Linked DNA regions of Homo sapiens: all the other regions are linked to region 1. The links come from fine-mapping of genetic effects on gene expression. A gene starts in region 1. Each other region holds a variant in brackets. All regions are shown on one strand. Distances are from middle to middle.

What was found.
Region 2: its variant is fine-mapped to the expression of SWINGN in whole blood (TOPMed, PIP above 0.99).
Region 3: its variant is fine-mapped to the expression of SWINGN in whole blood (TOPMed, PIP above 0.99).
Region 4: its variant is fine-mapped to the expression of SWINGN in whole blood (TOPMed, PIP above 0.99).
Region 5: its variant is fine-mapped to the expression of SWINGN in whole blood (TOPMed, PIP above 0.99).
Region 6: its variant is fine-mapped to the expression of SWINGN in whole blood (INTERVAL, PIP above 0.99).
Region 7: its variant is fine-mapped to the expression of SWINGN in whole blood (TOPMed, PIP above 0.99).

What each region holds. Positions count from the first base shown.
Region 1 is chr13:113,926,691-113,930,765 of GRCh38, reverse strand. It overlaps SWINGN (SWI/SNF complex interacting GAS6 enhancer non-coding RNA), which reads left to right and starts at 1,775. Exons shown (of 1, transcript NR_047495.1): 1 at 1,775-4,075. It also overlaps a transcript of C13orf46 not described here.
Region 2 is chr13:114,108,854-114,112,928 of GRCh38, reverse strand. All of the region lies in intron 1 of RASA3 (RAS p21 protein activator 3), which reads left to right. It overlaps RASA3-IT1 (RASA3 intronic transcript 1), which reads left to right and starts at 3,150. Exons shown (of 2, transcript NR_046544.1): 1 at 3,150-4,075. RefSeq lists enhancers at 1-321, 2,222-2,857 and a silencer at 1,396-1,550. The variant C/T (reference allele first, on the strand shown) is at 2,460.
Region 3 is chr13:114,136,502-114,140,576 of GRCh38, reverse strand. No RefSeq gene overlaps it. Among named protein-coding and RNA genes, the nearest start is that of RASA3, 5.9 kb to the right of the region's middle. The variant A/G (reference allele first, on the strand shown) is at 2,435.
Region 4 is chr13:113,992,201-113,996,275 of GRCh38, reverse strand. RASA3 (RAS p21 protein activator 3) reads left to right here. Exons shown (of 24, transcript NM_007368.4): 22 at 3,688-3,791. Among named protein-coding and RNA genes, the nearest start is that of C13orf46, 20 kb to the right of the region's middle. The variant A/G (reference allele first, on the strand shown) is at 1,906.
Region 5 is chr13:113,972,562-113,976,623 of GRCh38, reverse strand. It overlaps C13orf46 (chromosome 13 open reading frame 46), which reads left to right and starts at 2,548. Exons shown (of 7, transcript NM_001365455.2): 1 at 2,548-2,816. The coding sequence starts at 2,627. The variant C/T (reference allele first, on the strand shown) is at 2,110.
Region 6 is chr13:113,953,793-113,957,855 of GRCh38, reverse strand. It overlaps C13orf46 (chromosome 13 open reading frame 46), which reads left to right. Exons shown (of 7, transcript NM_001365455.2): 7 at 1,017-4,063. The coding sequence ends at 1,083. Among named protein-coding and RNA genes, the nearest start is that of C13orf46, 18 kb to the left of the region's middle. The variant T/CTCT (reference allele first, on the strand shown) is at 1,519.
Region 7 is chr13:113,966,047-113,970,046 of GRCh38, reverse strand. C13orf46 (chromosome 13 open reading frame 46) reads left to right here. Exons shown (of 7, transcript NM_001365455.2): 3 at 1,287-1,452; 4 at 1,533-1,580; 5 at 2,659-2,706. Among named protein-coding and RNA genes, the nearest start is that of C13orf46, 6.0 kb to the left of the region's middle. The variant T/C (reference allele first, on the strand shown) is at 1,582.

The DNA.
Region 1 (4,075 bases):
TGATGTGGGTGATGTTGATACTCCCACTTTACAGGTGGGGAAACCAAGGCTTCAGCTTCCGTGGCCAGGGGATGAATGGGAGTGTGGTCTGGATGGTGGCTCCTGGACCGGAAGCATGATGGGAGCCATGAGGAATGCAGGTTCTTGGGTCCTTCCAGCTCTGCTGGATTGGATGCTCGTGGGGGCTCAGGGTCAACACAACCCCCCAGGACTCTGACCTGGGAAGTGGAGCAGCCTGATTTGGAGGCGAGGACACACCAGGAGGCACCTTGCCCTGTGGCCACTGCACTGAGGCTTGAGAGATCACTAGAGACAGCTCAGCCTCAGTGCTCCCGCGCCCCCGCCTCGGTGCTCCTGCGCCCCCGCCTCGGTGCTCCTGCGCCCCCGCCTCGGTGCTCCTGCGCCCCCACCTCGGTGCTCCTCCACTCCCACCCCGGTGCTCCTTCCACCTCTGCCTCACCCGATGGACTGTGCCTTTGCGTTTCTTGTGCACAAATCCTGCTGAAGTCTGGGCAGCTGTGTGTTTGATGATGGGCTTGTAGGAGAGAAGCATCTGGACTGCGCCGTGCAGATGGCGCTTCTCTCCAGGCACAGTCACATTCCTGGGAGGTTCCTGGAGGCCTCCGAGCCTCGTGCAGACCCAAGGCTGCCTCACCACCATGGCCACAGCCCAGTGCTGGCTGCCGGGCATCAAATCTGCAGAAATGCACGTGGCATAAAAGCACCAGAGACATCCGTCCAGAGCCGAGGGCTCCTCCCTGGCCCAACATTTTGTCCACGTAAGTCCACTTTTTGGCTGCTGCTCCCAGGCCTGGCAAGAACGCAGATCCCCACAGCCTCCTGCTCCCTGGCAGCCTGAGGACAGTGTCGTAGGCCTGGGATCCTCGGGCAGAACTGAATGCAGCTTTTCCATTGGAGGGCGCTGGGCCCACATGGCAATCACAGGTATGGCAGATGAACTCACGGGATGCTCCGGGACTCCAGGGGCCTCAGGAGAAAGGCCCACTGGCAGCGGGTTGCCCAGGGCTCCAGAGGGGGGCTCCAATGTGAACCAGTTGCTTGTGGCACAGCGGGTCACCCAGGATGGCCCTGCGTGGTCAGTGATAACAGGCAGTCACTCACAGCGCGACTTCACCCATGGTCACTCCCGGTGACCAGCACTGCACAGCCTGGGCTTTCGTCCCACATGGCACCTCCCTGTCCAGCCTTGGCCCAAGTGCCTGGGAAACAGACAGGGCACCGTGTGCCTGAACACACTCGGACAGTCGAGGCCCCCAGGAGAAGCAACAGGCAATGACTCGGTCCCCAAGAAGCTGAGCCTGTCCTTGCTGGGGTCTGTCATCTCCTCTTAGCCCCGCCAGGCTCCTGAAGCTGCCACATGTGCAGCGGGAGGTGGGTGGTTTGGGAGCAGAGCGAGGCTCTGGATGGACGGGCTTTACCACCAGCAGCCACCACCACCTGCTCTGCAGGGCCTGGGCCAGCCCTGAGGAGGTGGCAGACGGAAGGAGGGGCAGCACTGCCTCAGGTCTCCTTTACTGTCTTCCAGACATCAGCTCAGGGAGAGTAGGCATGTAGCACTGAGAAACAGGGTTGCTCCCCATGGCTGCCTCTGCTTCCCTGCCGCACAGTGTCTGTACACGGCCTGGGGACCTGCGAGGCCAGACCGCAGGGCAGGGGCCCACGGCTGTGCCAGCTTCTCTCCCAGGCCGTGGCGGTTATTACCTCCTGACTTGGCAGAGCATCCGGCTACTGGAGCCCATTGGTTCCGGCCAGTGCAGTCAGGACTTAGCTTCCCAGCTGTGATCTAAATCCCAGCCTCCCAAAGGCACAGCGCCTAAGTTCTCCCCTGCCAAGCTCACAGCCTTCTCCTTGGCAGGCTGCCCTTTCTCCTGCTGGACCAAACCAAGGAGCACGGTGACCCAGGGACACCACACTCGGTGTCAGCCTCTGAGGCCATGGAGCCACGCAGACCCAGCACAGGATTAGAAACAGACCTTCCCGGGAGGCAGAGAGCCAGGCCTCCTGGTTTATAGCATGACAAGGCAGCACTCAGGAGGACGCATCAATCCTTCTCCATGTCAGCACCTGTGACTGTGACCACTGGTGAGGTGGACATGCTTCTTTTTCCATTTTACAGATGAGGAAACTGAGGCCAAGGGAGGGTCAGCAGCCTGCCCTGGGCTGACTGGTGATGCAGCGAGGGTGGGGTGTGGGAGGGTGGCGGCGGCCCTTGCAGTCCCTGGGAACCTGCACCTCTTCCTGGGCGCTGTTCCCCTCTCTCTCCCAGGACCCTTGGGCCTGGCGTTTCTTCACCTGCGACCATCCAGGAGCTGGACCTGCCCTAGGGCGTCAGTTTCCAGGGAAGCCTCTGGCCTGTGTGTGAGCCTCCCCACCTGCCCGGCCACGGCCTCCACAGGCGCCCTGCGCAGCCCCGCCCCTCCTGGGGCAAAGGCTTTGCGAAGACTTTCTTCTCTGGCTCATCCCTTTAAGGAGGCATAAAAACGAACCCCGGGCCTCACAGGTCCGGAATGCGCCCCCCTCCACGATGGGAGCTTCTTGGCCTTGGCTGTGCAGGGGCCGCGGCTCCTGGGGGTCTGGCCGGATCTGCAGTAGTGCTGAATGAGCTGTGGCCAGGAAGACGCAATGAATAATTGTCACTTAAAAGGATAAACAGAAATTCCATTTCCCTTTTAAATACTTGAACATTTCAAAACATCTGGAGGACGCGATGCTTTTCCTTCCAAGCATCTCCGTGGAGTTTTGTGGGTTACCGCAGAGGATCGGCAGCATTCCTCTCTCAGGGAAAACTGGCCTGAGCATTGCATAACGCAGGCAGACTGCACCCCTCACGTCGCCTGGGGCCACATGCACATGTTTCCAAGAGACTTGCTGGAGAATCTTCCCCGGATCTTGACAAAGTTGGACATGGAAAGCACGTTGGTCCATCCAAGGTCCACAGAGCGACCCTGGCTATGAAAAATCATCCTCCGAGTGGGAGTCTGTCTGCCAGGAGTGAGGTGACACCGCACATGGCCTCAGGAGCTGGAAACGCTGGTGAATTCAGATGCAGCCAAAGCTTCTAACTTAGTCACAGTTATTAATTATTCTTGGTCTTATTGGAGCAGGAACCACTGCCATGCATCAGGCCAGCAAGGCTCACTCCCCACCGTAGGATCCCTGTGTAGACGGTCGCTCCATCAGTGTAGTTGGGTGTGTGGAGCAAGGGACTGGGCTGACCCTACCTTCCAAGCATCGATGTGGCCTTCAGCAGAGCAGGAGGAGATAGCCCAGGACTTGTACTTTGCAGTTGAAGTGCCAGACCTAAGAAATGCAAACCTGAGGATGGAAAGAGGGTGGAGAGGGGGGAGGTGTCTGGATTGGCCGTCCAGAGCAGCCCCAGCTGCAGCAAGTGGAACTTGGCTGGCTGCCTCACAGGCCTGGTGGCAGCGTCCCCAGCGAGGAGCCTGTCCCACATATGAAGGTCCCCATACCCTTAGCCCCTAGCTGAGAGTTTCACTGACCAGAGCTCCCTGAGTCCAGGGCTCCACTCAAGGGACTGCTGTCCCCGTTGGTGAAGAAGGCCTGTTGGGGCCAATGCTTCCCCCCACAGGGAAGCGGAGCTGTATTTTGTCGGACAGAACTTTGCAAGCCTGAAACAGCTGGTGGTGGCCCCAGAGCCAAGATCTGACCTCACTCCAGAGTTGAAGGGCACAGAGAAGGCACAGCTAGAGGCGGCAGGTACCCCTCAAAGCTCTCGGGAGAGGGTACAAAGTGGGACCTCCCAGCACCCTTGGCCTCCAGGCCTCAAAAGCCCTGAGAGGGCTGCATGCAAGGAGACAAAGCTGGAGAAGGATGTGGGAGGCAGGTGGCTAAGAAGACAGGCTGGAAAGGGACGTGGGAGGTAGGTGGCTTTGCTCTAAACAGAATCGTCTCAGTAATGTGACACTGCACATGTATAGGTAGGCTCGCTCATGGGCATAACCCTCTAAAACACACCTTTTATGGAGTGAAATTCACTTAACAGCCATCTTGAAGCATATACTTCGGCGGCATTTGCTGGATTCACGACGTTGTG
Region 2 (4,075 bases), 180 kb before region 1:
CCTCCCTGAGCTAAGCACCTTCCCAGCCCCCTGCTGGCCTCTCATTCACTCTCTGAACGGCGAGTGTTGCTTTTTTGCTGAGGATTCTCTTGGAAACCCTTTGAGCTGAGAGATGAGCCCACAGCGGTGCCTCTGCCTCAGATGTTGGTGTACCCTGCGGCCCCACGGGGAGTGGACGCTGGCAGTCGGGGCACCTTGGCTGTGGGAAAGGAGGACCACGCTGGCCACACAGGCCTGAGTGTGTGGGACCAGGGCAAGCAGGGAGAGCTGGCATACCCCCACCCCATTCTCCAGTTACCAACCCTTAACCCGGGGCTCTCCTAGCGGGGTCCCCATACCTGCAGCACCAGCATCCCCGGGCACGCGTGTGAAGTGCTCGAGGCAGGCCGCACCCCTACAGAGCTGGGGCTGGCGATCTCTTTCCACCGGCCCTGCAGAGAGTTCCCGTCCGGCTGAAATCTGAGACCCCGGTCTAAAGAGTGTGATTCTCTTCCTGCAGAGTATCAGGAGCAGACCAGCTTCCCAAACAGTCACCCGCAGAGCTTCTGCTCCTTCGGGGAGGGCCCTGACTTTCTCGTGGTAGAAATCCTCCACCCGGCCAGGTTCCGGCTGCCCCAGGCCCCCTAGAAGACTCCGGGGATTGCTGAGCAGATGCGGGGCTGCCTGGAGCTGGCCTGGCCCCTGGTGCCCTGCTAATGCCATTTTTTGGTAACACCCATTCACAATAGCCTGGCTGAGGGTTTTGTTCTCCTTCTCTTTATTTGCTATCACTAAATCCATCTGATTAAAAATTAGCCTGGTGTGCCCTTGTCCCAGTTGCTGGGGGGGGTGCCTGGGGGCTGCTGTTTCCAGGGAGAGGGAGGGACAGTGTCACTTACGGGACCACACAAAGGGGCGAATCTGCCTTTTGCTTTTGTCTCTTCCGCTACAGCTCCCACCCTCGCCTGTTCCTTGGAATTAGATAGGGTGAAGTCTGTGCCTCCTTCACCAGCATAAACAGAAGCTATTTTAAGTTGATGGGCCCCAACCCCAACCAAGACACAGGATCCGATGATCCTCTGGAAGCGCCGTCTTTGCTCAAATTGCAGCTGGGGATGTCCTAACTCCTGACCACAGATGGAGGTTTGACATACTCTGCTTTACGCATGAGGTTTTCTAAACAGTTTATGTAGCTAGAGGCTGTTTTGGAGAAACAGAGATGGTCATGGACATAGTTGCAAATACCAAGGCTATCAGTGGACATGGAGACGCTGGGCTCTGTGTGAGGCAGGAAGTGACGTTTCCCTCCTTAGAGGCTCAGCCCGTTAGAACTCGGCCTGCAGCTCGTTTGAGGCTCAGCCCGTTAGAACTCGGCCTGCAGCTCGTTTGAGGCTCAGCCCGTTAGAACTCGGCCTGCAGCTCGTTTGAGGCTCAGCCCGTTAGAACTCGGCCTGCAGCTCGTTTGAGGCTCAGCCCGTTAGAACTCGGTCTGCAGCTGGTTTGAGGCTCAGCTCCTTAGAACTCCGCCTGCAGCTCGTTTGTGGCTCAGCCCGTTAGAACTCGGCCTGCAGCTGGTTTGAGGCTCAGCCCGTTAGAACTCGGCCTGCAGCTCGTTTGTGGCTCAGCCCGTTAGAACTCGGTCTGCAGCTGGTTTGAGGCTCAGCTCCTTAGAACTCCGCCTGCAGCTCGTTTGTGGCTCAGCCCGTTAGAACTCGGCCTGCAGCTGGTTTGAGGCTCAGCCCGTTAGAACTCGGCCTGCAGCTCGTTTGTGGCTCAGCCCGTTAGAACTCGGCCTGCAGCTGGTTTGAGGCTCAGCCCGTTAGAACTCGGCCTGCAGCTCTTTGTGGCTCAGCCCGTTAGAACTCGGCCTGCAGCTGGTTTGAGGCTCAGCCCGTTAGAACTCGGCCTGCAGCTCGTTTGTGCCGTTCCATGTTGCAGTTTTAGGTTTTTTTTTTTTTTACTTTGAGCAGCCCTGGATTATGACAGGTGTCTGGCGATGTCTTTCCTGACCAGAGCGTGGCTCAGCCCCCGACCGGGGCCCACGGCCAGACCCTCACTCTGCTGCCCCCGACCTGGGACACCGTGGCTCTCTCAGGAGGATTCTCACTCCCCAGCCAAGCACAGTCTGTGGTGTCAAACCTGCCGGTGTCCGGATGGGTGTGTCCTGGTGCTCTGAGGCTCCGGTCCGGGCTGTGGGGACGCGGGAGGCTGAGCGGGTGAAGGCGGCTGTGATGTGCGTGTCATGCCCTGTGCAGGTGCCAGGAGGGGCTGTCGGTCCTCACAGCAGCCAGGGGAGGAAGCTTGTTGTGTTTGTTGCTGATGAGGAAACGGGGCTCTGGGAGGGAAGTGCTTTGCCGGCTCACGCTGGGCCACAGCTGCCTGCTGCTTTCCTGAGAAGCCGTGTAAGGAAGGTGGCGGCCGAGTGCGCAGAACCTGTCCTGTGTAGGGCCAGGGGTCATGCAGCTGTGCAGGGAAGCAGC[C/T]GCAGGCACGGTGCCGTCCAGTGAGCCGGACTGTATCCATTTCACCTTATTTCAGACACTGAGATTTGAGTTGCACGTAATGTTCACAGGCATGAAATGTTATCCTTTTGATAATTTTTAAATTACTTAAAATCTACCTTGCAGGCGTTACAGCACAGGGTATGGTCAGGGGCCCGGGTCTGTCTCTCCCTGGTCCTGGCAGCCATGTAAGCCCGTAGACCCAGAGCAGGGGTCCAGCTTCCAGGCCCCCCTGGGGACTGCTGAATTCTGTCCCACTGACTTAGATTTTTTGTTTTATTCTGAGCATTTCTGTGTCTGTTGATTCACTATTTTTTTCTGGTTATAGAAGGAATAATTTTTCTTTTACCAACCACCCAGGCTGCAGCCACCTGTGACTGGTCAGGTTTCTGTGATGGGGAGAGGGCCTGGCCCTGAGGTCTGTGTTTCACGGCTCTCACTGGGCTCCGCCAGACGCTCGTTGCCCTGAGGGTGCAGCTGTGGCAGCATCTGTGGGTGGCTGAGGAGACGGGACGTTCACCGGGAAGTTGCGCCCCAAGGGTGTTCTGGGGGCTGCCTCGATTCCCAGAGCTAGACCCACACGATGCTGAGTCTCGTGCCGCCGCGAGGCCACCCCCGGTCAAAGAGACCCAGTCGCCTGCCTCGTGGCCCTGCGCCAGCCCCGCCTCTGGTGACGTCTCTTTGGAAGCCACAGCAGGAGGAGGCTGCTCACGGCGTTTGGAGGCTCGAGGGCCTGGTCTCCAGGTGTGCACAGCCGGGATGGAGCAGAAGGAGGATGAGCTTAAGTCAGAGAGTCCTGGGCTCCAGTTTTGCTTTGACGTTTATGTTGCTTTAAGAGAAAACAGCTCAGCTGTGCTTTTCTCCTCTCCGCGGCCCTCATGGCTGATCTGTATGGAAGATTAGAGAGGACCCTGTGTCAACGTCCGCAGCCCACCGTAGGTGCTGAGTAAATGTTGGTCGGTGTTTTTCTCACTTTATTTTCAAGCTGTCATTGGCTTGGGATTTTGTAAAAGGCAGCTGGGGTGTGGATTGGAGTGGAGCTCTAAGATGCTTGAGGCAAGAGGAGGCTGTGAACAGGAGGGTTTGGACTGGGAACCACGCAGCACAAACGAGCTGAGTTCGAGGAAGGCCTCAGTGCCTTGAAAGGCAGCTGCTGTTTACACTTTTCTCAAGACAGAGGCTTCACGTGGTCGCCGTTCACACAAGTGCCAAGCAAGACCCTGGCACCAGAGGCGTGGACTGAAAATGAAGCCACCTGAACGTCCTGTGACGGTCACGGAGCCGGTCGTGTTCGGGGGCCCGTGTGTGTTTGTCAGGCCAGGACCCTGCCGCCTGCCCTCTGGCTTAAGGAATCCAGTTGGGGAGAAACACTCCCTCTGAGTACCCCTGGGGTTTTGACCCAGCTTGAGGTTGTAAACAGGTGGAGGGGGCCGAGTGGAGAGGCCTTGCTGTGATAGAGACCTGGGCCTGCCCTGCCACCGTCCGCCGGGAGCCCACGGCAGCCTCGCCCTCCGACACCTGCACGCTGCATGCAGTGGACTGAACTGCAGGATGCCTGTGTTGCTGCCAGTTCTGCTGTTTGGGAAAAACTCTCTGTG
Region 3 (4,075 bases), 210 kb before region 1:
CACACGCAGCTTGGTCCCGGCACAGGCCTGCGGGCGGGCACTGCTGCCAGCCCCATTTTACAGACGAAGAAATTGGGAGACAATCTGGGGAGATGAGTTAGCTTCACAGGAAACTATTTGAAGAAATAAAAGTAATTGACGCGGTGGTTCACAACTCCTAAGTATAATGAAAGCAGCCGCGATCGTTGTCACAGTCAAGGTGCCAGGGATTTGTGGGCTGAGGGGCATTCATCAGCACCCACGGCTTCTGCGGGCCTGGGGGCGGGGGCGTGAGCGTCTCCCTCTGCTCTCCTGCCCTGCCCTGCACAACCTGGTGAATTTCCTGTCCCACCCGCTGCCCCACCCCTCCCTGAAGCAGGGAGGTTGGCAACTGAGCTTGTGAGGCTCAAGGGTACCTAGGATGGGCCACTCGGAGGGGAGGCAGCTCTCCTCGGCCATCACAGCCAGAAAGTGGGCTTTGAGTGTTCCGTGCGGTGCTGCCACCGTGTCTACACCCACCTCCACCGTGTCTACACCCACCACCGTGTCTACACCCACCTCCACCGTGTCTACACTCACCGCCACCGTGTCTACACCCACCGCCACCGTGTCTACACCCACCACCGTGTCTACACCCACCTCCACCGTGTCTACACCCACCACCCTGTCTACACCCACCTCCACCATGTCTACACCCACCGCCGTGTCTACACCCACCGCCACTGTGTCTACACCCACCACCGTGTCTACACCCACCTCCACCGTGTCTACACCCACCATCGTGTCTACACCCACCACCGTGTCTACACCCACCGCCACCGTGTCTACACCCACCACCGTGTCTACACCCACCTCCACCGTGTCTACACCCACCTCCACCGTGTCTACACCCACCACCCTGTCTACACCCACCTCCACCATGTCTACACCCACCGCCGTGTCTACACCCACCACCGTGTCTACACCCACCTCTGCCGTGTCTACACTCACCTCCGCCGTGTCTACACCCACCACCATGTCTAAAACCACCTCCACTGTGTCTACACCCACCGCCACCGTGTCTACACCCACCACCACCGTGTCTACACCCACCACCATGTCTACACCCACCTCCACCGTGTCTACACCCACCGCCGTGTCTACACCCACCTCCACCGTGTCTACACCCACCTCCGCCATGTCTACACCCACCACCACCGTGTCTACACCCAACTCCACCTTGTCTACACCCACCACCCTGTCTACATCCACCTCCACCGTGTCTACACCCACCACCACCGTGTCTACACCCACCACCGTGTCTACACCCACCACCACCGTGTCTACACCCACCACCACCGTGTCTACACCCAACTCCACCTTGTCTACACCCACCACCCTGTCTACATCCACCTCCACCGTGTCTACACCCACCACCACCGTGTCTACACCCACCACCGTGTCTACACCCACCGCCACCGTGTCTACACCCACCGCCACCGTGTCTACACCCACCACCGTGTCTACACCCACCTCCACCGTGTCTAAACCCACCTCCATGTCTACACCCACCTCCACCGTGTCTACACCCACCGCCGTGTCTAAACCCACCTCCACCGTGTCTACACCCACCACCACTGTGTCTACACCCACCACCGTGTCTACACCCACCTCCGCCGTGTCTACACCCACCACCGCTGTGTCTACACCCACCACCGTGTCTACACCCACCTCCGCCGTGTCTACACCCACCTCCGCCGTGTCTACACCCACCACCACCGTGTCTACACCCACCACCGCCGTGTCTACACCCACCACCGTGTCTAAACCCACCACCGTGTCTACACCCACCTCCACCGCGTCTACACCCACCGCCACCGTGTCTACACCCACCGCCGTGTCTACACCCACCTCCACCGTGTCTACACCCACCACCACTGTGTCTACACCCACCACCGTGTCTAAACCCACCACCGTGTCTACACCCACCTCCACCGCGTCTACACCCACCGCCACCGTGTCTACACCCACCACCGTGTCTACACCCACCTCCACCGTGTCTACACCCACCACCGTGTCTACACCCACCACCGTGTCTAAACCCACCTCCACCGTGTCTACACCCACCGCCACCGTGTCTACACCCACCACCGTGTCTACACCCACCTCCACCGTGTCTACACCCACCACCGTGTCTACACCCACCACCGTGTCTAAACCCACCTCCACCGTGTCTACACCCACCACCACCGTGTCTACACCCACCACCGTGTCTACACCCACCTCCACCGTGTCTACACCCACCGCCGTGTCTACACCCACCACCGTGTCTACACCCACCTCCACCGTGTCTACACCCACCTCCACCATGTCTACACCCACCACCGTGTCTACACCCACTTCCACCGTGTCTACACCCACCTCCACCGTGTCTACACCCACCGCCACCGTGTCTACACCCACTGCTGTCTGCTTC[A/G]TGACTCGGGGGTCTAGGCTGCTTCTTTCCTCTCTCTCTGCATTTCAAGAAGATGAGAGCGAGACCATGATGCTCCGTGGTAAGGCCCACCTGAGCCTCCGACTGTAGTTGATAAACCCAGCACAGCATTGCGTCTCCTGTCCATCAACAACACAGACCACCAGGCCTCGGCATCCACAGGAATCTTGGAGTGGACCTGTCTGCTTCTCTCAGTTGTGTGGCTCAACTAATGTTTGAGAAAGACTCTTCGGTGGCTATTTATTCATCTCTCTAGATTCTCCAAATGTGTTCTTTCGCAGCTCATCAGGTCACTAGAAAGCTACTTTCTTTGACTTCTAAGTGCCTACATAAATTTTATGCGAGAATTATGATTTAATGTTATATTTTTACTACATTCATTCAACAAACATTCATTGAGCATTTACCATGTTCTAGGCCCTGTAGTGAGTGTCATTTGAGATTAAAAACATCCTCCCCTAACTTGTCCAATATTCCTTTTGAAAAGAATTCCCTAAAAAATTTCTTGTATTGCCTTGTGGGCTAAAGTACTGTCTTTCCTGAAAGTCTGACATGCTTCCTTTTATCAGATAATGTGACTTGTGTAAGATTCATATTTCCATATTTCCCTTTTCACCTTGGCTATCCGGAAGCTCAGTGTGTAGCTTTACGTTCAGCTGTTCTCACCTTACATGTGTCAACAAATCCACTAAAAAAATTTCTTTTAAAAGGAAAGAGACAGGCCGGGCGCGGTGGCTCACGCCTGTAACCCCAGTACTTTGGGAGGCTGAGGCGGGCGGATCACCTGAAGTCAGGAGTTCGAGACCATCCTCAACATGGAGAAACCCTGTCTCTACTAAAAATACAAAATTAGCCAGGCATAGTGGTGCATGCCTGTAATCCCAGCTACTCGGGAGGCTGAGGCAGGAGAATTGCTTGAACCTGGGATGCGGAGGTTGTGGTGAGCGCCGAGATTGCGCCATTGCACTCCAGCCTGGGCAACAAGAGCGAAACTCCATCTCAAAAAAAAAAAAAAAAAGGGGAAAGAGACATTATTCCAGCAAGCAGTTTGCAAACTGGGAGATGCTGCCTTTGGAACAAAACAAAGGTGCATTCCAGAGAAGAAACATGCGATTGTCTTCCACAAGGGAATTCCTGCCCAGGATCTCATTCTGGCCTTTATGCAGATAAGGGAGGCAGACTTGCTTCATTCTGTTTGGTAGAGCCTGGTAGCAGTCTATTGGTTTGGTCCAGAGGGCAAATTGGGATTTTCTGGCCTTGGTTGATTCCAGCAGCATGAACAGACAGCTGTGAAATTTCCAGCACTTCCGGGAACGCAGAGCTGGCGTGTGACCTCTAGTGAGCAAAAGGTCGCGTGCCTCCATTTTGAATTCAGGCCCAGTGAGCCCCTTGGGATGCACCTGGCAGGATGGGCTCTTTCAGGTTCAGATACCTGATTCCACCGTTCTTCCTTCAGTTCTTACTTTGAACCCTCCAAAAATTATTCCGTTGTGTACTGGTCATTTATGTGGCTTCAAATCCTTTGAAAGTAGATTGTTCAGACATGATCTAATAATGCTGTTTTGGAAATGAATGAATGTCCACTTGTCAATGGGTTGATATGTGAACAGAAGAGTATATCCA
Region 4 (4,075 bases), 66 kb before region 1:
GGGGGAGCGGGAGGTCAGGGTGAAGGGGGACTCCCCAGGCCGTGGCCATCCTGCTTCTCTAGGAGGAGGCTGGGAGCAAGCCCCTCCCTGAAAGCTTCGTCTGGCCCAGGACACCCACCTTGATTCCACATGACGCAGCAGCCCGTTGTCTTCCCGGCCCCCCATCAGCCGGGTCCCCATCAGCCGGGCCCCCCATCAGCCGGGCCCCCCATCAGCCGGGCCCCCCCATCAGCCGGGCCCCCCCATCAGCCGGGTCCCCCATCAGCCGGGCCTCCCCATCAGCCGGGCCTCCCCATCAGCCGGGTCCCCCATCAGCCGGGCCCCCCATTAGCCGGGCCCCCCCATTAGCCGGGCCCCCCATCAGCCGGGTCCCCCATCAGCCGGGCCTCCCCATCAGCCGGGCCTCCCCATCAGCCGGGCCCCCCGTCAGCCGGGCCCCCCGTCAGCCGGGCCCCCCGTCAGCCGGACCCCCATCAGCCGGACCCCCCGTCAGCCGGGCCCCCCGTCAGCCGGGCCCCCGTCAGCCGGGCCCCCGTCAGCCGGGCCCCCCATCAGCTGGGTCCTCCGTCAGCCAGCCCCCCATCAGCCGGGCCCCCATCAGCTGGGTCCTCCGTCAGCTGGGCCCCCCGTCAGCTGGGCCCCCTGTCAGGCCCCCCATCAGCAGGGCCCCCCATCAGCCGGGCCTCTGGCAGTTGCACAGAGGCTTGGGTCATATCTGCCGGTCCTAAGGAGGAGGCCTGGGTGCCTGGCGGTCCCCCTGGTTATGCTCCGTGAGATGCACCTCGCTGTTGTTGTGGCCACGTGATGCTTTCGCATAAGGGCCCTGCAGGGGATGAGCTGTGCTCCATGCTGGGCCACCGTTTAATCCTCCCACAGCCTCAGAGGTGGGACCTTAGATCCTGCTTCGTGGACACAGAGGCTGAAGCTCAGGAAGGGGGCCTGGCTGCTGCTCAGGCATGCGTGGCCACCGCCCCAGAATCCCCCAGGAGAGGCCAGCGCTCTCCCATGTCCTCGCATCCCAGGACAGCGGGAAGCATTGCAGCCTGACGAGGAGAGAAAACCTGGCCTGTCCCCACCCGCAGCCGACCGTGCAGGGAACACAGTCCCAGGAGGCTTCCTTCCAGGCCATTTATCTCCATGAGAACACGTCTGCCGAGTTTGCTCACTGCCTTGGCAGATCTGTGGGTCCCAAGAGGCTCCAGCCGCTGAGGCCGGACAGCTCGGGAGCCTCCCCTATCCCGCACACCCACAGCCAGCCTCAGTTCTCCCAGCTCGGGGATGCTTTTTTAGTTTTATGTCTTTGAGATGGGATCTCGTTCTGTCACCCGGGCTGGAGTACAGTGGTGCAATCTCAGCTCACTGCAGCCTCGACCTCCTAGGCTCAAGCCATCCTCCCACCTCAGCCTCCCAGGTACCTGGGACTACAGGTGTGCTCCACCATTCCAGGCTAATTGTTTTAAGGTTTTTTGTAGAAACGGGGTTTCACCACGTTGCCCAGACTGGTCTCAAACTTCTGGGCTCAAGCAGTCCTCCCACTTCACTCTCCCAAGTAGCTGGGATTACAGGCTGATGCCACCAGCCCAGCTCATTAAATTTTGGTTTTTTGTAGAGACGGGGTCTCACTATGTTGCCAGGTCTCACTGTGAGGGTCTCTCCATGTTGCCCAGGGTGGTGTTGCTCAAACTCCTGGGCTCAAGCGATCCTTCTTGCCTCGGCCTCCCAGAGTGCTGGGATTACCCACATGAACTCCCTGACTGGCCAGGGATGTGTTTTAATGTTGGTCACTTCATCTTCTTTCTTCTTTTTTTTATGATAAATGCATTTCATTATTTATTTAGATGTTTAAGCTCTCACTGCAAAGTTTTTACAAGCTGTTGAAGACTGACAAATTATTTCTCACACAGA[A/G]CTATAACCACCCATCCCCAGACAGCATAAATATATGGTTGAACATGAATAAGTGACACAATTTTATCAATTACCTAATAAAACAAATGACCAAGTATCCAAATACTGAGCTACTCAGCTCAAAAGGCATATACAGTATTGACATCTGATCAGTTCATTAGCAGAAACCCACTTCTTTTTTTACAAGAGAAGTTGGGAAGAAAAGGGAAAAACTGTCATACTTCAAACAAAAATAAGTTGGAAACAATTTCTAATCAGTATGGAAAAAATTACAGACGTTTCAGAAATTTTATGATTTAAGAATTGTTTTAGCTATAATAAGCATTTCTGCCTTTTAAAAAGTATTTACTAAATTAAAGAGCATATTTCACACGTTCTGCACAAGGCAGCATTTTGCTAAAAATAACAGCCCCGCGCGTTCCTATCAGGCCCTCCCTGTTGGTTGCACCTGCGTGCAAATGTGAAATTAACCGTGAGGCCACTTTGTCTGAAGCCATCAAAGACGTGCTTCTGTACAATGTAGATTTTCTTTTCTTTTCTTTTTTTTTTTTTTTTTTTTTTTTTAGGCAGAGTCTCGCTCTGTTGCCCAGGCTGAAGTGCAGTGGTGTGATTTCGGCTCACTGCAACCTCCACCTTCCAGGTTCAAGCGATTCTCCTGCCTCAGCCTCCCAGGCAGCTGGGATTATAGGTGTGCACCACCACACCTGGCTAATTTTTGTATTTTTAATAGAGACAGGGTCTCACCATGTTGGCCAGGATGGTCTTGAACTCCTGACTTCAGATGATCCACCTGCCTCGGCCTCCCAAAAGTGTGGGGACTACAGGTGTGAGCCACCACACCCGGCTATGGAGGTTTTTCATAATAACACAAAGTAAGATTTATAAAAAGACATGAGGCCGGGCTCAGTGGCTCACGCCTGTAATCCTAGCACTTTGGGAGGTCGAGGTGGGTGGATCACCTGAGCTCAGGAGTTCAAGACCAGCCTGGCCAACATGGTGAAACCCCATCTCTACTAAAAATACAAAAATTAGCCAGGCGTGGTGGTGTGTGCCTATAATCCCAGCTACTCAGGAGGCTGAGGCAAGAGAATCGCTTAAACCCAGAAAGCGTAGGTTTCAGTGAGCTGAGATCGTGCCACCGCGCTCCAGCCTGACGTGTGCTGGTGTGAACATAGGAGAAGCAGACATAGAATGAGCAGGGAAACAAGCACACAGCCTCCTTCTGTGTTTGAAATGACTGAAGGAATAAACCACATGAGGTCTGGAGTGTTCATAGTTCCTGGGAATTGAGTTCTGTATGATACTAAAAATGTACAAGTATTACATATTACACTGGGGATTTTAGCACCTAGTCTTCCTAAATTTCTTATGTATTGATAAGATTCTGGAGTAGGAATAGATTTAAACAAGACATAACTCAGTACTGCGTGATTTCAGGAAAGGTCAGTTAGTACAAATGATAAGCACATTTTAAATACTAAACAGCAAGGATCTTTTGCCACGTGTCCAAATAGGCCAATGGTAACTGAAGCAGAGGTTGCTAGTTAGTTCCGGTTTGCAGCCTGGTGACACTGCTGTCCGTGCTGCTGTGGACGCTGTCAGCCTTGCTCAGCAAGCCAACACACCGGCTGTGCACAGACGGACAGCAAATCGATCCTGTCGAATTTCACTTCCAACACAATCGTTGTCTTTCTTCAGTGACATTTTAAAAATGAATGTCATTATTAAAAGCATCGTTTAAATAAGTGTTTTTATCTTTCTGTTCTTGCTGTGTCTGGACAGCGGCCTCCCAGCCAACATCCAGCTGGACATTGATGGGGACCGTGAGACGGAGCGTATCTACTCCCTCTTCAACTTGTACATGAGCAAGCTGGAGAAGATGCAGGGTGAGTCTGCCCGGCACACAGATCTGTGCAGCGAGGGGATGGCTGGCGAGGCCCCGGCCTCAGGAGCATGCTGTGGGGTGAAAACCTGTGGTCTGAGCCTCTGGTGTAGTGTGGGCTACATGTAGTTGTCTTTGTAGCACGGATGGATGCGAAAAGCTTTTTGCAGGGTAGGCAGCTATCTGGGGGACAATTACCTGTATAATAGGTTCTATAGATAATTTTTAGATGGAATTTAACTTGTAACCTCTGTACTGCCAAGTTTCTTTAGAGGACCTATTTTTTCA
Region 5 (4,062 bases), 46 kb before region 1:
TGTGTCCCCACCCAAACCTCATCTTCAGTTGCAGCTCCCATAATTCCCATGTGTGGTGGGTGGGACCCAGTGGGAGGTGATTGAATCTGTGTGGTGGGAGGTGATTGAATCTATGTGGTGGGAGGTGATTGAATCTGTGTTGTGGGCGGGACCCGGTGGGAGGTGATTGAATCTGTGTGGTGGGCGGGACCCGGTGGGAGGTGATTGAATCTGTGTGGTGGGAGGTGATTGAATCTGTGTGGTGGGAGGTGATTGAATCTGTGTGGTGGGAGGTGATTGAATCTGTGTTGTGGGCGGGACCCGGTGGGAGGTGATTGAATCTGTGTGGTGGGCGGGACCCGGTGGGAGGTGATTGAATCTGTGTGGTGGGCGGGACCCGGTGGGAGGTGATTGAATCTGTGTGGTGGGCGGGACCCAGTGGGAGGTGATTGAATCTGTGTGGTGGGCGGGACCCGGTGGGAGGTGATTGAATCTGTGTGGTGGGTGGGACTTGGTGGGAGGTGATTGAATCATGGGGCGGTTCCCCCATACTGTTCTCGTGGTATAAGTCCCACGAGATCCGATGTGAAAGTTTTATGAGGGTTTCTCCTTTTGCTTGGTCTCATTCTCTCCTGCTGCTGCCATGTAAGACGTGCCTTTCACCTTCCACCATGATCGCAGGGCCTCCCCAGCCATGTGGAACTGAATCCATTCAACCTCTTCTTTATAAATTACCCAGTCTCAGGTATGTCTTTATCAGCAGCATGGAAACTGTCTAATACACCCACCAAGAGACTGCAGGTGGCTTTGTGGAGACCCCAGTGACGCCCATTTGCCCTTGTTGCTCCAGACGACCCAGCACTTGTTGGAGAGAGACAGCGGCCTCCTCTCCCATCCTGGCAGCATCCGCGGGGCTCCCGACATCAGAGTGTCCAAAGCAGGTGCCTCTGAGGAACCGTCCCAGGAGGCCAGGCAGTGCCAGAGCGTGTGTGAGGCCAAGGCCCCCACCCTGCACCCACCACTTGCCCAGAGAGCTGAGGCCTCCTGGGTGCTGAGAGGCTGTGGGCTCTTCAAAAGAAGAGATCAGAAGGAGGGGAGCCTGCAGCCTGGGGGTCACACCTGCTTCCCCCTGGCTGAGGAGCCCCGGGTGCGGGAAGCGGGTCCTGGGGGCGGGGGGGTGCGCCGGCTCGCGAGGTGCCTGTCAAGGGGCAGAAGGGGCTGCCCAAATAAGCCACACTGTTGTAAGGGTTGTTTTGAGCTGAAACAGCCATCCACAAGGATAAGAACGCTGCTTTCTTCTGGCTCTGGAGAGCGTCTTCCCCGTGGGGTGTTACCTCCTCTTTCAGGAAGGAAAGGCCATTCCCGGCCACACAGACCGTGCTGGAGTGCGTGTGCCTTTCTCCAGCTCATCTGCTGATTTTAATTATCAGGCCCGACCAAAAAACCCCAAGAGGTAAAATGTTGCCTCCCCACCCACCGTGGTCTGGAGGCTGGAGGAGACAGCGTGCCGGGGATTTTCTGTTCGGCTCAGTACAGGCTGAACTCTGTCCCGGCAAATCCTCATGCTGGAGCTGTGACCCTGTGACCCTCAGGACCTCAGGGTGTGGCTGCACTTGGGCGTGGAGCTGTAGAGATTGTCAAGGTAAAGCGAGGCCCTGACCCAGTGTGACCAGCGTCCTCATGAGAAGGGGAGACGAGGACGCAGCACACAGGACCACCACGTGAGGACACGGAATACGTCATCTTCGCGCCAAGGAGAGAGGCCTCGGGTAACCAGCGCTGCGAGACACCTTGCCCCCAGCACCGGAGGGAATGAGCTCCCGCTGTTTAAGCCGCCTGCCTGGGAGTGCCAGCAAACCCACGCTGACCTGTGCAGTTCACACCGTCGGCCCGGAAAGCCCTCGCCGGAGCCCCGGCCACATCAGGGTTTCGTCCTGGCGCCGTGTGGGTGGGGAGAGGCGCTGGGCCGGCAGCATTTGCACCCCACCACTGCCTGCAGGGGCTGCCTTTGTCTTCCTGAGTTGATCTGTGTCCCATTTGCCCTGATAGGGAGAGAAAGATTCAAATACCCTGTCACAGAGGGAGACCGGCGTCTCATCTGCAGGCCCTGCTAGGGCTGGTGCCAGTTCC[C/T]CGCCCTCCCTGGTGGAGAGACCAGAGATGTGAAAACGCAGAACCCGCCCCAGCCCCGGCCTGCGGGAAAGAAGAAGGGAAGACGCAGAACCCGCCCCAGCCCCGGCCTGCGGGAAAGAAGAAGGGAAGACGCAGAACCCGCCCCAACCCCGGCCTGCGGGAAAGAAGAAGGGAAGACGCAGAACCCGCCCCAGCCCCGGCCTGCGGGAAAGAAGAAGGGAAGACGCAGAACCCGCCCCAACCCCGGCCTGCGGGAAAGAAGAAGGGAAGACGCAGAACCCGCCCCAGCCCCGGCCTGCGGGAAAGAAGAAGGGAAGACGCAGAACCCGCCCCAGCCCCGGCCTGCAGGAAAGCCACGCTGTGCTGCCAGGGATCGGCTGATCTTTGGCCTCTGACCTTACAGTGATGTCACAGCAGACCCATGGCAACGCACTCCCAGCACCTCCTGACTACTCCCTGCGGGACGGCTGGGTGTGAGGGTGGCAGCCTTGTGCTCAAGCCGAGGCTGGGCTGGAGGATGGAGAAGGACACGGGGACCACACACAGGAGGCACCGGCCCGGCCTCAGGGCCCTGCCCTCAGGAGTGGCCCTTGGGCACCTCAAGGCGGCCAGTGAGGCCTCTGAACTTCAGCGAAGCAGGAGTCTGGGAGGCCTGCAGCCCGAGGGGGACCCTCCCAGCCGCCCTAGGAAGCCTCACAAGGAGCTGGGTAGGGGCTGTGGGGCCGCGGGGAGCGGGTGGACGGCGCGGCTGTCCCACCAGGCACTGAACCCAAAGTACCTGCGTCAGAGCCCAGCCCAGTTAGAAAGTTCTAGGAAGTTCCCAAGGTTAGGGATGCGCCGAGACAGCCCCAGGAGGTCCAACGACGTGTGTCCAAGGCGGGGCACGGCCTGACGTCATACATTGCAGGGGGGCGTGGGGCATCAATCAGCACCTGTGAGGGGGTACGTCGGTTCTGTCCGGAAAGGGACAGCCTGAAGCAGGAGGGGCTTCCAGGTCGTAGGTAGAGGAGACACAGGGCTGCATTCTTTGGGTCTCGATCAGCCTTTCACTGAACACACAATTTACACGTGAGGGGACTAGAGGGAGAGTCACTTGTATCCTCGTCCGGCTCCGTGACTGCGGTTTTTCATGAGCAGCCCAGAGGGAGCTGTCGGACACACTTGTCTCAGGTGAGCAGAGGGAGGACCGTGATCTCTGTCCCTGTCCTGCGCCTGTTGACGGTCAGCTGTCCACGTGCATTCCCAGCGTGAAACTCCACAAAACTGCTTAGGGCAGAGATCTTAAGGCTCACAAGGAATTTCCTCGTGGGTGAATGATGAGGGAGGCCTGTGGCCGTTTATCTCTGCAGCTCTTGTTTAGGAAGAGGATGGGAGGCAGGTTTGTCTGACACATTCCCAGCCTTACTCCTCCCCTTAGCTCAGTGATTCAGGGCCCAAGATTCATTTTCCTTCCACCGGCAGCAGGGACCGGGCCGGGCCTCCTGCCTCCCGCTGCCCTGTGCTCGGAACGCTAAGGGTGGAAGTGGGGAGCACTCCAGGTCCACACCCGTAACCCACCCAGGGCTGCTGGGAAGGCCTTGCGCTGCTGGGGCGGAGCTGTGGGGGCTCCAGCCGGGCACAGCCAAGGGCGGGAGGGGTGAGAGGAGGGCAGGCCTGGGACCCTCATGGGCCTCCGAAGCCAGCCGATGCCTGAAGGGAGGATCATAGCCAGGCGCCCCGTTTGCAAGAAGGCCCTGGTGAGGGCCTGGGTCCCTGCCAGGAGCTCTGGGCCTCACCCACCAGCAAGGAACCTGCGTAGCTGGTGTTTGACACGGTTGGCTTCTAAACCGCGAAACGTGTAGGCTGCCCCTGTGTCGGTCCACACTCGCCACTCTGAGATGTTTCCAGGTGTGCCGAACGGACGGTGGTGTGGGCCTGGGGATGGTGCTGCAGTCACCTCCTCACACCTTGAAT
Region 6 (4,063 bases), 27 kb before region 1:
GATGAAAGGGGGTGAATACAGAGTGCAGGGGAGACCCACCAGTGTGCTTGATGAAAGGGGGTGCAGGCAGAGTGCAGGGGAGAACTCCCAGTGCGCTTGATGAAAGGGGGTACAGGCAGAGTGCAGGGGAGACCCCCAGTGTGCTTGATGAAAGGGGGTACATGTGGAGTGCAGAGGAGACCCCCAGTGTGCTTGATGAAAGGGGGTGCAGGCAGAGTGCAGGGGAGACCCCCAGTGTGCTTGATGAAAGGGGGTGCAGGCAGAGTGCAGGGGAGACCCCCCAGTGCGCTTGATGAAAGGGGGTGCAGGCAGAGTGCAGGGGAGACCCCCAGTGTGCTTGATGAAAGGGGGTGCATGTGGAGTGCAGGGGAGACCCCCAGTGTGCTTGATGAAAGGGGGTGCAGGCAGAGTGCAGGGGAGACCCCCCAGTGCACTTGATGAAAGGGGGTGCAGGCAGAGTGCGGGGGAGACCCCCCAGTGTGCTTGATGAAAGGGGGTGCATGCAGAGGTGCAGGGGAGATCCCCCAGTGTGCTTGATGAAAGGGGGTGCAGAGTGCAGGGGAGACCCCCCAGTGTGCTTGATGAAAGGAGGTGCATGCAGAGTGCAGGGGAGACCCCCAGTGCGCTTGATGAAAGGGGGTGCAGGCAGAGTGCAGGGGAGACCCCCCAGTGCGCTTGATGAAAGGGGTTGCATGCAGAGGTGCGGGGAGACCCCCCAGTGTGCTTGATAAAAGGGGATGCATATGCAGGTGCAGGGGAGACCCCCCCAGTGTGCTTGATGAAATGGGAGCATATGCAGGTACAGGGGAGACCCCCCAGTGCACTTGATGAACGGGGGTGCATATGCAGGTACAGGGGAGACTCCCCAGTGCACTTGATGAAAGGGGGTGCATACACAAGTGCAGGGCAGACCTCCCAGTGCACTTCAGGTTGGGGGTGCTGCTCTCGGGGTGCCTGTGGCCACAGTGCTGGCCCAGGACCCTTTCTCACCCACCTGCCCTCCTCTCGCCCTGCAGGATGCAGACCAGCTGGGTGTGCTGCATCCCGTACTCCACCAGGAAGAGGGCAAAGGAGAGCACCTAGCGCCCCGGAGAGGGTGCTCAGAGCTTGGCGAAGAAGAGGAAGGAGACGGGGTGCAGAGGGGCTGGGGGCACAGGAGGCGGGACGGAGGGCGATCCGGCCACCTACTTGCCGCCCAAGAGCCTTCTCTGCCAGGCACTGAGGTTTCTGTTTTCTTCTTGTGGGACTGGCCAGGCCTGGAAGGAGCGAGAGCACAGACTGCGCCTTTGGGCTAAAGATCCCGCCAGCTCTGAGCAACGCTGGGGTGCCGATGACCACACCAGGTGTGAGCCACGCCTGAAACCCACTGCCCACTGGGTGAGTGATGACGTGACCTTCAACAAACACAATAAACAAGCACGGGAAGATGCTCCTCCTCTCCACCAGATGCTCCTCCTCTCCACCAGATGCTCCTCCTCTCCACCAGATGCTCCTCCTCTCCACCAGATACTACTCCTC[T/CTCT]CCACCAGATACTACTCCTCCTCTCCACCAGATGCTCCTCGTCTCCACCAGATGCTCCTCCTCTCCACCGGATGTTCCTCCTCTCGTCGAGATGCTCCTCGTCTCCTCGAGATGCTCCTCGTCTCCACCGGGTGCTCCTCGTCTCCACCGGATGCTCCTTGTCTCCGCCGGATGCTCCTCCTCTTCGCCAAATACTACTCCTCCTCTCCGCCAGATCCTACTCCTCCTCTCCGCCAGATACTACTCCACCTCTCCGCCAGATCCTACTCCTCCTCTCCGCCAGATCCTACTCCTCTCTGCCAGATCCTACTCCTCCTCTCCGCCAGATCCTACTCCTCCTCTCTGCCAGATCCTACTCCTCGTCTCCGCCAGATGCTCCTCCTCGTCTCCGCCAGATGCTCCTCGTCTCCGCGAGATGCTCCTCCTCTCTGCGAGATGCTCCTCCTCTCCACCGGATGCTCCTCCTCTCCTCGAGATGCTCCTCCTCTCCTCGAGATGCTCCTCGTCTCCACCGGCTGCTCCTCGTCTCCGCCGGCTGCTCCTCGTCTCCGCCGGCTGCTCCTCGTCTCCGCCGGATGCTCCTCCTCTCTGCCAGACACTACTCCTCGTCTCTGCCAGACACTACTCCTCCTCTCCGCCAGACACTACTCCTCGTCTCTGCCAGACACTACTCCTTGTCTCTGCCAGACACTACTCCTCGTCTCCGCCAGACACTACTCCTCGTCTCTGCCAGATGCTCCTCCGCTCCACGAGATGCTCCTCCTCTCCACGAGATGCTCCTCCTCTCCACGAGATGCTCCTCGTCTCCGCCAGATGCTCCTCCGCTCCACGAGATGCTCCTCGTCTCCGCCAGATGCTCCTCCGCTCCTCGAGATGCTCCTCCTCTCCACCGGATGCTCCTCATCTCCGCCGGATGCTCCTCGTCACCGCCGGATGCTCCTCGTCTCCGCCGGATGCTCCTCCTCTCCGCCGGATGCTCCTCCTCTCCACCAGATACTACTCCTCCTCTCCACCAGATACTACTCCTCTCTGCCAGATACTACTCCTCTCCGCCAGATACTACTCCTCCTCTCCGCCAGATGCTCCTCGTCTCCGCCAGATGCTCCTCGTCTCCACGGGATGCTCCTCGTCTCCACGGGATGCTCCTCCTCTCCACCAGATGCTCCTCCTCTCCTCGAGATGCTCCTCATCTCCACCGGATGCTCCTCGTCTCCACCAGCTGCTGCTCCTCTCCACCAGCTGCTCCTCATCCCCACTGGATGCTCCTCATCCCCGCCGGATGCTCCTCCTCTCCGCCAGATCCTACTCCTCCTCTCCGCCAGATCCTACTCCTCCTCTCTGCCAGATCCTCCTCCTCGTCTCCGCCAGATCCTCCTCCTCGTCTCCGCCAGATCCTCCTCCTCGTCTCCGCCAGATGCTCCTCCTCGTCTCCGCCAGATGCTCCTCGTCTCTGCCAGATGCTCCTCCTCCCCACGAGATGCTCCTCATCTCCACCGGATGCTCCTCATCTCCACCGGATGCTCCTCGTCTCCACCAGCTGCTCCTCGTCTCCACCAGCTGGAGGACTCCAGCCCCTTCCTGCCCTGGCCTCTTGCTCAGTGGCTTGTTGGGTGGGGACAGAGGCCCCTGGGGCACAGCAGGGGAGGCTCAGCCCTTTGTGGGCCTCGTGTGAGCTGCAGCTCCTGGAAGCACCCCCACCAGGCAGGAGTGAGAGGTGCAGGGCAGGGATGGAGCATCTGCTGTGTCACCAAAGTCCCTGCAGGAGCCAGGAGCACGGTGGACGCAGCTGAGCCCCGGCTGTGACTGCGAGAGCAACAGAGACTGTGGTGCTGGCACTAGGATCTGTCCCTGGAGGGAAGCCACATGCTCCCCACTCAGAGGAGGAGAGGGAGTCTTCCTAGGGGTGTGGGGGGCTCCAGGACATGCCTGTAAGACGAGTTTCACCAGAATCCACCCAGAGCCCTCTCGTTCAGACACGCACACGTGCATATTCATATGTACACAGCACATACATGCTCGTACATACCACACATGTGCACAGGAGGGCACGGGCAGGTGACCTGCAGCATCTCTGATCCGGGTGTCTCTAAGGCAGTCAGAGGCCACAGGCGGAGATGCTGTGTGCACTGTCTATTCCCGTGGAGACACATGGGGGCCGTCCCTGTGGTGCACATGATAATGCAGAGGCTCCCAGAGGGTGAGCTCTGCCCATCACTCAGCCAGGGAGGGAGGGGCCCTTTTCAGGGAGCCGCATGCCACGCAGAGCTTGTCCCACTGGGTAGTTTCCTCTGATCAAAGTGGGGCACCATCCAGGCTGCAGAGAGAAAGGGGACCCCCCAAAGCCAGCACCCACCCTTGACTGAAAGACACCACAGAAGATAAGTGCCCATCGGCCCCAGAGTCATCATTTCCCAGACAACCGGAAATGGGCCCTGGACGGGCTGTCCTGGACAGGCTGCCGGGCAGTTGGGTGTGACTCAGTTGCGGCCTCCAACTGTGCCAACCAGAAAGGCACCCAGAGAAGCTTCCGGAAATACGGTTGGTT
Region 7 (4,000 bases), 39 kb before region 1:
AGGGAGCCCTGGGTCCTGCGAAGACCCCGCGCAGGGCCTGGATGGGAGGGCTGGGAAATCCTCCTTATTTTGAGAGGAATTCAGCGTGGGAACAGGACCCACCTGTAGCGGGGTGGTGTCCTCAGGACTCGGGCCCTGGCCTGAGGGTCACACAGCTGCATCCCTCTCAGTAGACACCCCATGGCCCTCTGGGGAAGGAGGCGTCGTCTCACTAGTGGACTGCTGGGCCCACCTTAGATGTAAACAACTCGAGTGCTCCTTTAGGGAGAGGGCGTGGGGCCCTGGACAGCACATCCCCACTTCGTACTGCCGAGTTCTTGCCTCCCTGCACCTCGCGTCCCGTTCTAACCCAGCTCTGGTTCTCCCACCCACTCACCCTCCTGCCATCAAAGAAGACTTAAAAGTCATTGAATTCCTCAAAAATTTGTCTCAGATCTAACAAAGTCGATTTACCAGCACCATGGCAAGGCACGGGCCAAGTCCCCCTTATTTACAAATGGCTCCCGTTGAGTGGAGACCAAGGAAGGTGTCCGGCCGCCGAAGCGGCCAAAGGTGCAATCAGTTGGTGAGAGTGAGTGTTCGTGTGTTAGACAGGATGTGTGCGGCGCCTGGAGCCTCCCACTCCGTAGAGCTCAGGGAAGCTGATGGCCTTGGTGAGGGCAGTTGAGCTGGGAAGACCACACACCTTTAGGGTGGCAAAGCTGAAAGCGTCTGCTCACGTTGGCCAAGTCAGTCAATACCCTCGGCCAAGTCAACGCCATTGCAGATGGTGGCGGAGCCCCTGTCATCCTCACTGCCTGTTGCATTCCTCTTGCCCCTGGCCACACACCATAGCAGACCACAGAAGGGGTCACGAGGTTGGTGCGAGTAACAGCAGGGCCAACCGTGGACCCTCCAGCCTACTGGCCAGCATGGCCCATTTGGTATCCACATGGAGTGTGGATCTGCGACAGGGTGGCTGCATCTTCTCATCAGATTTTGGTTCTTTGAGCAAGGTTAGACCCTGCTTTCCAAAATAAGCCCAGGTTGGCTGTAATCCCAGTCCAGACCCTGGCTGTACAGGGTAAGTTTTCCAGGCAAGATGGGCCAGCAGAGGGAGCCAGGAGGGCCAGGCTGTGGGGCCCTTCAGAGCCAGAACTCTGTGCTGGGTCAGGGCACCTCATAGGTGCCCACCAGACCCCAGGGGCACCAGCCTCAAGCCCAAGGAGACAGACCCAGAGGAGACCAGGAGCTGCCCGCAGCTATCTGCCGTCTCTTCCAAACCACTTTCCCTGCTCCTCCCGCAGTCAGAAAAACCTAGCACAAGACAAGAAGGAAAGCTTCAGCACCCTTGGGAAGCTGGGTCATGAGAGTGGAAAACAAGACCCAGAGAGGGAGAAGAGCGACTTGGAGGCCAGCATGCAGGAGGTGCAGGAAGGCGAGCACGCAGACGGAGGCTTGCAGGAGGCCAAGGTTGGGCCACGCTGAGGAGCGGTGCATTTTTTCCTCTTGCCTTGGAGCCCGGCCTTCACTTAACCTCTTTGGTCTTACAGGAACAGGAGGCAGAGTCCATAAAGCTAAATGACCTTCAGGAAGAAGAGG[T/C]AAGAGCTTTTCCCTTTAGTAATAGAAGTGAGAAGGGAGGCCTGTCCAGGCGGGAGTTCTGCCGGAGCCTGGACCTGCCCGGGACGGTGGCCTGGGGGTCAGCTCAGCAGGCGCCAGGCTGTGAAGCTGGACTGACTGGGCCCCTGCTACCCTAGAGAGGCTTGGGGCCAAGCTCTGAGACTCTTTACCCGATCCCAGGGCAGCCTGACCCCTGCTTGCCAAACGTGCAGTCACTAAAGGTGTATGAGGCCCTGAGAGGAGGTGCCCTCAGCTTGACCTTGGCCCAGAAAACACCCAGAGCCCCAGGCTTGATGTGTTGTCCAGGGACACGTCATGCTGTGGGGGTTCTCACGTGGCACCGTGTGAAGGAAAGTGGCTTTTGTTCTCCCTCCAAGCTGTGTGGTGGGGACGGTAACACAACCAGACACGCTGCTTGCCAGGCGGGCCTTGCTTTCATTCCAGGGCTCTTGGGAAGTCCTTCACCCACCCCCAGACACTGCCCTTGGAGTTGACTCAAATGCTCCCATCAGACACACGTTCTGGGCTGGCCCAGGTGCCCCGTTGGAGGCCTTGGGACAGCAAAACCCTGAGCCGCTGAAGCCGTTCACATCCCGGGGGGGGTCTCCTGCTCCTTGGTGTGGAGTGTGGCCCACAGGCAGGCTGTGGGGCAGGAGTGCTGCCTTGTCGAGCAGGGCTGGGGTGGGAGCAGCCCGGCTCCCCAAGATCTGGGCATTGCCCCATCTCCTGGAGGCCCGAGTTCTCAGAGGATGAGGTTGGAGGAGACCCTCTGGGGTCTCAGGGCCCTGATGGGAGGTGAGTAGGGAGGGGTGAGAAAGCCATATCCCTCCTACATCCTTCTCCTACATGGGCACCTCACAGTCCATACTGCCGTCAGCTCTGCCCAGCGTCCCAGGAGCCCTCGTTCAGCATTGCCAGGATCTGGGGACCTGATGGTCATCACCAGGGTCTGCCCCGGCTGCCCCAAGGGCCAGGGGCCACTGTTCCTCCCAGGGAATCAACGTTCCTCTCCAGCTCACCCAAGCCTGCCATCCACACCTCTGTGGTTTCCATTCGCAGAAAGCATCTGTGTTTGTGGAGATTGATCTGGGAGACCATGCTGAGGAGGTAAAAATGGAAAACCGCAAGACAAGCAGAGCCAAAGCCACCAGGAAAGCGCCTGTGCTGCCTGGCAGGGCCAGCCTGGGAGGCTTTTCTGGGAACTTACCCCACAATAGCCATGTGTTGGATAGGGAGGCAGAGACCTGGGGCCAGCAGCTCCAGGAGAGCTCCCTGGTGTTGAGGATTGGTCTAGCCTCTTCCTTACCCTCCCACACTCCAACTCACGCACACTTCAGCACTATCAGAGACTCTGGGGCCTGGGTTAACCTTCAAGGTGCCCATGGGTCCTCAGAACCTCTTGTGGGGGATCACGTTGGGATGGTGAAAAGGGCACAGGCCTGGAAGCTCAGAGACTGGGCTTTGGTGGATGTGTGGTTCTGTCAGTAAATGCTCAAAACAACTCATCATACTTCCCTGTGCCTCAGTTGTCTCCTCTATAAAGTAGGAATCATATTAGTACCCGCATTCCAGGGTTGTCTGGGAAAGCTCTCAGAGCAGTGCCTCACACCCAGGAAAGCTTATCATCATCATCATGGGGTATCATCATCATCATCACCACCATTACTATCCTCAGCATCAACACCATCATTATATCACAACCATCATCATCATCACCACCAGCAACATCATCCCCATAAACATTATCACCATCATCATTAATATCACCATCATTATCACATCACCACCATCATTCCCATCAGCAGCATCATCATCATCATCACTATCATGACCATCATCACTGTCACCATCATCATCACCATCACCACTATCACTATCACCATCATCGTCACTATTACCATCACCATTATTACCATCATCACCTTCACCATCATCACCACCATTATAATCACCATCACCATCATCATCACCATTATAATCATCACCACCGTCATCATCACCATTAATACCATCACCATCATTATCACATCATCATCATCATCACCATCATTAATACCATCACCATCATCATCATCACCATCATTAATATCATCACCGTCATTATCACATCACCACCATCATTCCCATCACCAGCATCATCATCACCATCACTATCATGACCATCATCACCACCATCACTGTCACCATCATCATCACCATCACCACTATCGCTATCCCCATCATCACCACCATTATAATCACCATCATCATGACCATCATCACCATCATCATCATCACCATCACCACTATCACCGTCACCATTGTCATCATCACCATTATAATCACCATCATCACCATCATCATCATCACCATCATTAATACCATCATCACATCACCACCATCATTCCCATCACCAGCATCA